2 linked regions of the Homo sapiens genome follow. The protein of the gene in region 1 purifies or fractionates together with the protein of each later gene. This does not show direct contact. Each region holds a gene or a part of one and is shown in the gene's direction. Other genes may lie near its edges.

Region 1 (3,500 bases):
CGAAGCACATCAACAAACAGTTATATTGAGCAACTCTTCTCTAGTGGCCAGGGTGAAGGACTATCTAAGCTTGGACATCTCTGTTGCTTTGGGGGCCAGCCCAGTGCAGAACTGGTTTTTGAGCATCAGGTTCCTCCTAGGTGCCATTTGCCCAAGGAACACTTGTCTCAATATGCTCAACACACTTTTTTTTTCTTTTTTGAGGCAGGGTCTCACTCTGTTGCCCAGGCTGCATAGCTCACTGCAGCTTCTATCTCCTGGGCTCAAGTGATCCTCCCACCCCAGCCTCCCAAGTAGCTGGGTCTATAGGCACCTGCCATTACCATACCCAGCTAATTTTTTTTTTTTTTTTGATAGAGAAGGGGTCTCAAAAAAAAAAAAAAAAGAGAGAGAGAAGGGGTCTCACTGTGTTGTCCAGGCTGGTCTCTCAAACTGCTAGGCTCAAGTGATCCTTCTGCCTCGACCTCCCAAAGGGCTGGGATTATAGATGTGAGCCACTGTGCCCAGGTCAACACATTTTTTAGATTCTCAAGACTCAGTTTAATTCCAATTGTAACCTTTAAAAATAATCCCAGCATTTGGGAGCTAAGGCATGAGGATCACTTGAGGCTGGGAGTTTGAGACCAGCCTTGGGCAATACAGTGAGATCCCATCTCTACAAAAAAGAAAGAAAATGAAGGAAAATAAGAGAAGGGATGGAAAGTTATGAGACTAATGAAAAAAAAAAGGCTCTCAAAGATAGTGAATGATGAGAGGAGAAAGAAAGGACTTTTACTAAAAAGAAAAAGATTTAACAGAGAGCATTGTACTGGCAGGGCCCTCCAGGGTATCGATGCTTAGTTGTGACTGAGACATCTGAGAGGCCGCAGGCAAGGTCAGTTCTACTGAAGCTTTCAGCCTGTGGTCTACCCTGTCTGACCTGAAAGGAAAGGAATTTAAGATAGGAAAGGTTGAAGGGATTGGTGGGGGTGCGGGAAAGGACATAGAAGATGGCTTCAGGTATAGAAATTGAGCTGCCCCAAGGTGGAAATCTAAAATAATATCCACTTGCCCAGCTGAATTATTCCAGGCAAGGTGAAGACGACTGGTTCTCCCCACTAAGAAATGTCTCTCTCTCTCTTTTTTTTTTTTTTTGAGACAGAGTCTTGCTCTGTTGCCCAGGTTGGAGTGCAGTGGCACGGTCTCGGCTCACTGCAACCTCCGCCTCTCAGGGTCAAGCGATCCTCCTGCTTCAGCCCCTCCTAGTAGCTGGGATTACAGGCACACCCCACCATGCCCTGCTAATTTTTGTATTTTTAGTAGAGATGGGGTTTCACCATGTTGGCCAGGCTGGTCTCGAACTCCTGATCTCAGGTGATCCACCTGCCTTGGCCCACCTGCCTTGGCCTCCCAAAGTGCTGGGATGACAGGCATGAGCCACCGTGCCCGGCCAGAAATGTCTTATTTGTTAGGTTTGTAGTGAGCCGAGTGTTCTTTCTTCCCCCACCCGGGGGTTAGGTTAGGGATAGCAGAACAGTATTTAATAAACCAGAAGACTGAAATGGGGCCAGGATGCAGTGAGTAGATCCAGTAGGTTACATGGTCCTGAGAGATAAGAGACTCAAAGAGCCACCCAGCAGTGAAGACACAAACTACTACCACCTCCCCCTACCACCACCACTGGGCTTCCGTGGAGTCTGGGGTACAGATCAGACTGCACTGTATTTGTTTCCAAAATGATCAATTCTTAGTAATCCTACCCAAGGCTGTGTTGTCCTCTTTCCTCCCAGTTCGTGAGTGGAATTCTATGCCTACCTTCACCTGATGCAGGTTTTTAAATATTTCCAAACTGACCAACCCAGTTTCTCTTAACTTCTTCCTTCTCCAATTTTCTTTTCCACTTTTACCAAGTTAACTTCACATTCTTATCTCCAGATAAGTTCTTTAGTATAATCTATTACTTTGTCTTCCCGATTAATTACCTAAATCTCGTTTGATGTTTGTCCTTTTCATACCACTCATAGGTCAGATTCTCCTAATACAGCTCCATAATTAATAAGAAACAGTCATCAATTACAAGTTTTAAGGACTATTCTCTCCTCCCTGTCCTCTGTCTCTCCAGGTCACCCCAGCTCTGATCTTTGCCATCACAGTTGCTACAATCGGCTCTTTCCAGTTTGGCTACAACACTGGGGTCATCAATGCTCCTGAGACGGTGAGTGCCAGGCCACAAGAATTAGAATCTGGAATAGGGAAATTATTCCTTTAAGTAGGGTTTCAAGAATTCAGAATTTAAGGCCAGGCATGGTGGCACCTGCCTGGAGTCCCAGCTACTCCGGAGGCTGAGGCTTAAAGATCACTTGAGCCCAGGAGTTAAACACCATCCTGAGCAACACAGTTAGTGAGGGTCCCTCCCCCAACTAGGGGAATTAAACTTTGTATCTATCCTGTCCAAGACTGAAGATGGAGACAATATTGGTGGGGAAAATTAGTGGGGTCATTTAATCAAAGGAAAAAGGTCATTTACTCCTTATACCCTGGGCAGTGCTGTTCTTCCTCCCACTCTTTCACCCTATAGTAATACACTTCCTGTATTATCCCTTAGGGGTTAGTTACCAAGCTGGCCAGGTTCGCTTAGCAGAGGGCTGGGGTGAACATCAGTGCTGCCACCTACTGGGATATTCAGGACAAATGAAAAATTACTATTCCAGGGAGAGTTAACATTAATTCCAATATGTTATCTGCCTCTTCAATTCCCGTCTATTTATTCCCTTGATTCTCTAGGGAGGAAATGATCCCTAATATTTGTTTTGTTTGTTTGTTTGTTTTGAGATGTAGTCTCGCTCTGTCACCCAGGCCGGAGTGCAATGGCGCTATCTCGGCTCATCGCAAACTCCGCCCCACGGGTTCAAGCGATTCTCCTACCTCAGCCTCCCGAGTAGCTGGGATTACAGGCATGCGCCACCACAACTGGCTAATTTTGTATTTTTAGTAGAGACGGGGTTTCACCATGTTGGTCAGGTTGGTCTGCAACTCCTGACCTCAGGTGATCCACCCGCCTCGGCCTTCCAAAGTGCTGGGATTACAGGCGTGAGCCACTGCACCCAGCATATTTGTATCTTTTGTTCTCATCCAACTGTAATAGTCTGTCCTCCCACCTTTTATTTTGCAGATCATAAAGGAATTTATCAATAAAACTTTGACGGACAAGGCAAATGCCCCTCCCTCTGAGGTGCTGCTCACGAATCTCTGGTCCTTGTCTGTGGCCATATTTTCCGTCGGGGGTATGATCGGCTCCTTTTCCGTCGGACTCTTTGTTAACCGCTTTGGCAGGTATTGACTAGAAACTGGGCAAGGAAGTGGGCTCTACCAGATGCATTGGGGACAAGTGTGGAGAGTTAGGGCAGGGAGGTGATGATGCCTTTGAATAAGAACACCTTGAATTCTAATCAAGGGAAACTAGCCCAACTGGCCCCGAATATGACTGCCCTTGCTTGGAGCTCTACTACCCTGGAGAGCTC
Region 2 (3,500 bases), on another chromosome or scaffold:
CCTCGTCCTGCTGGCCTGTGATGCCTGACTCTGGGCTGGCCCTGGCCTGCCTTACCCCCCACCCAACACCAAGCTGTGGGGACCTTGCCAGGCCCCCTCTTGTGGAGGGGAAGAGGCCCACAATGAATTTCTCCTGCAGGAGCAGGGGCAGCTGGCTGCCTCGTGAAGGCCACACCCTGACCCTCCTTTCTGTGTGTACCTGGCAGGTATGTGCGGGAGAAGACCAAGACTGGGGTGGACATGCGTGTGGGGGTGCACACGGGCACCGTGCTGGGGGGCGTCCTGGGCCAGAAGCGCTGGCAGTACGACGTGTGGTCGACTGATGTCACTGTAGCCAACAAGATGGAGGCCGGCGGCATCCCTGGGTGAGTGCCATTCCAAGGGGGCAGGTTTGAGGACTGGGGAGGGGACCGTCCCCTCCATCCCCCAGGGCTGTGACCCTGATGAGGGACAGGGGGCCTCAGAGAAGGCCTCCCTACAACCCCGGAACAGCATTCCTCCTGTCTCGCCCTGGTCCTGGCCCTGGCTAAGGCCGTTCTGACCTGCCTTGGGGTGAGGCCTCTTTGGGCCTGATATTGGATGTGGCTTTTCCTTCCTGGACCCTGCAGTAGCCTGTCCTCCTGTCCCCTTTACCGACTTAGGGGGCTGCCTCCCCTTTACCCACTAAGGGGGCTGCCCCAGCTCTCCTTATGTCAGAGCCCAGGTCTCCCCAAAGGGAGAGTAATGAGCAGTCATCAGCTAGCGGGCTCGCAGGCAGCGTTTTGCAGGTCGCAGTGCGATTACACGCCTTACTTGAGCTCCCTTACAGGATAATGGAGGCCCTGCCTTTAGCAGGGCGAGGCTGAGGGAGGATCAGCCCAGCCTTCCCCATCTGGGCCAGGGAGCTTCCTTCAGTGGCATTTAGGATTCTTGGCCTCAGTGGTGACTCCTCAGAAACAGGTTTTATTATCTCTTGGCAGCAGGGGTTGCAACTGAGAAACGTGCAAGGTGGGGGATAATTGGATCTTGTGGCTCACGCCTGTAATCCCAGCACTTTGGGAGGCCGAGGTGGGTAGATCACCTGAGGTCAAGAGTTTGAGACCAGCCTGACCAACATGACGAAACCCCATCTCTACTAAAAATACAGAATTAGTCGGGTGTGGTGGTGTGCACCTGTAATTCCAGCTACTCTGGAGGCTGAGGCAGGAGAATTGCTTGAACCCGGGAGGCAGAGGTTGCACTGAGCCAAGATCAAGCCACTGCACTCCATCCTGGGCGACAGAACAAGACTCTGTCTCAAAAAAAAAAAAAAAAAAATTCCTTATCGCATTTGATCTGCTTTACAGCGGATCAAAGATTGAAGAAAGATTGTACTCCTGTGTCGTGGCTCCAACACTGAGGCTGAGATGGGAGTAAGTGCCATACGGCCCACACAGCTAGTTAGCGGCCCACACAGCTAGTTAGCGGCCCACACAGCTAGTTAGTGGCAGAACTGCCTCCACTTGGCCTCTGCCCCACATGCCCGAGAGACACGGGGCCGAGCAGCAGCCGGTGCAGCCGTGGTCCGTGGACTGTCCCCTGGGGGTGTGAGGGCCACCTCTGGCCGACGCTCAGGGCCTCTCTCTCTGCAATCCAGGCGCGTGCACATCTCCCAGAGCACCATGGACTGCCTGAAAGGGGAGTTTGATGTGGAGCCAGGCGATGGGGGCAGCCGCTGTGATTACCTAGAAGAGAAGGGTATTGAAACCTACCTCATCATTGCCTCCAAGCCAGAGGTGAAGAAAACAGCCACCCAGAATGGCCTCAATGGCTCGGTGAGTTCCCCACCCCACCCCACCCACCCCACCCACCCCACCCCTGGATTAGGGGGTTGGAAAGGAGGAGATTAAGGAAAGATTGCAGAAGAGGTGGCAGGACCCAGCAGTGGCTGGCTGTGAGAGGTGAGTGGCAGGCTGGCACCCTTCCCAAGGGAGAGCTGGTTTCTGGGGGAGATGGTGAGTGTAATTCATGGCAGGTTGCAATGGAGGTGACTGAAGCATATCCCAAGACCACATCCAGGAGGGGGCCGCTGGAGATGTGTCGGTGGCGCCCAGGAGAGCAGCTGGGTTGGGGCTCAGGGTCTCCTGCATGGAGGAAGTGAGTGAAGCCACAGGAGTGACGTGGATGCTCAGGGAGAGGCTCAGAGAGGAGGGTGGGGGTGGGGTGACTGGTCATGGGGGAGGAGGACCAAGGCCAGGAAGGTTTCCTGAGTGGGAAATGAGGGAGGAATGAGATAGAAGTAATAGAGCAGGGGTGTCTAATCTTTCGGCTTCCCTGGGCCACATTGGAAGAAGAAGAATTGTCTCGGGCCAAACAAAAAATACTGTGGGTTGAACAAGCTTGCAATCGTGCATCCTGTGGGCCTGCCCTCTGGTCTTTTTGTGGGATCCCCCGAATATCTACAGACCTGAAGCACTCAGCAGCTTCCCCAGGTCTGTCCACCAACCCCCAAACACCTCCTGTCAGTCTGATTAGAAACCACCAGCAGCTGTTGCAGAAATGGATCCCTTTACCATCCCCTGCTGAATCTGGAGGTTGTCTTATTTTTTGTAATCTCATGTCAAAACCCTTTCCTCCAGTTATGAGAGTCCATCTAACAAGACTTGGAATTAAGGAGCTTGGTGACTGTCAGGGAAGTCGTGTCATTTGAGACTGCTCTATGGCTGAGGCTTTGCCTAATTATGGCTAAAGCAAAGCCCACTCTGGTGAGGCTGCCGGAGTGAAGGCTGATACTCCCCGCTGATTCTAACCTCGATGTCAGTCTCATCCAGTGTCATTTTAAAGGCTGTCTCTGACAACTCCCAAATTTGTATCTCCACCCCCAGTGTCTTCCCTGCACTCAACATACAGCCACTTGTACGTCTCCATTTGTACATATAATAGGTATCTTAAATGCCACCTGCCCAAAGCTCCTGCCCTCCTTCCCACTCCATAACCTGCTCTCCCTCGGTCTTCCCATCTCAGTTAATGGCAGTTCCATCCTTTTATTAACAACTGCTCAGACCAAAAAGTTTGAAATCATCCTTGACGCCTCACTTTGCAATCCACAAGCAAGTTCTGTGGCCTCAGATTGCTCTCTAATCCCACCGCCTCCCACGCCCTTGTCACTTCCAGACCTGTCCACGCCACTCTCATCCCATGCCCAGATCATGGCTGAGCTCTCCTTTCCTCTAGGCCCTGCCCAATGGAGCACCAGCTTCCTCAAAGTCCAGCTCCCCTGCCCTCATTGAGACCAAGGAGCCCAACGGGAGTGCCCACAGCAGTGGGTCCACGTCGGAGAAGCCCGAGGAGCAGGATGCCCAGGTATGTGCAGGGCTCAGGGCAGGGGGTCACTGAGGGCCAGATGCGGGCAGGCACCAGGAAGCAATACGTTCCTGCAGCAGGAGTCCTGTGCTGGGGAGACCTGGCCACCACCCAGGACCTGCTCCTGCTTAGCACTGTAACCATGGACAGGTCACCCCTCCAGCCCCGCAAAACCCCAC

What was found. Proteins that work in one complex are often made in the same cells at the same time.
Region 2: the proteins of SLC2A14 (region 1) and ADCY3 purify together in Homo sapiens (affinity purification with mass spectrometry; one large-scale study listed by BioGRID and IntAct). This does not show direct contact.

Annotation. Positions count from the first base shown.
Region 1 is NC_000012.12:7,831,416-7,834,915, reverse strand, and holds part of SLC2A14 (solute carrier family 2, facilitated glucose transporter member 14), read left to right. Parts: intron 1-2,101; coding exon 2,102-2,194; intron 2,195-3,151; coding exon 3,152-3,312; intron 3,313-3,500. UniProt on the Homo sapiens protein: Hexose transporter that can mediate the transport of glucose and dehydroascorbate across the cell membrane.
Region 2 is NC_000002.12:24,836,738-24,840,237, reverse strand, and holds part of ADCY3 (adenylate cyclase type 3), read left to right. Parts: intron 1-206; coding exon 207-365; intron 366-1,325; coding exon of another isoform or gene 1,326-1,391; intron 1,392-1,615; coding exon 1,616-1,793; intron 1,794-3,192; coding exon 3,193-3,321; intron 3,322-3,500.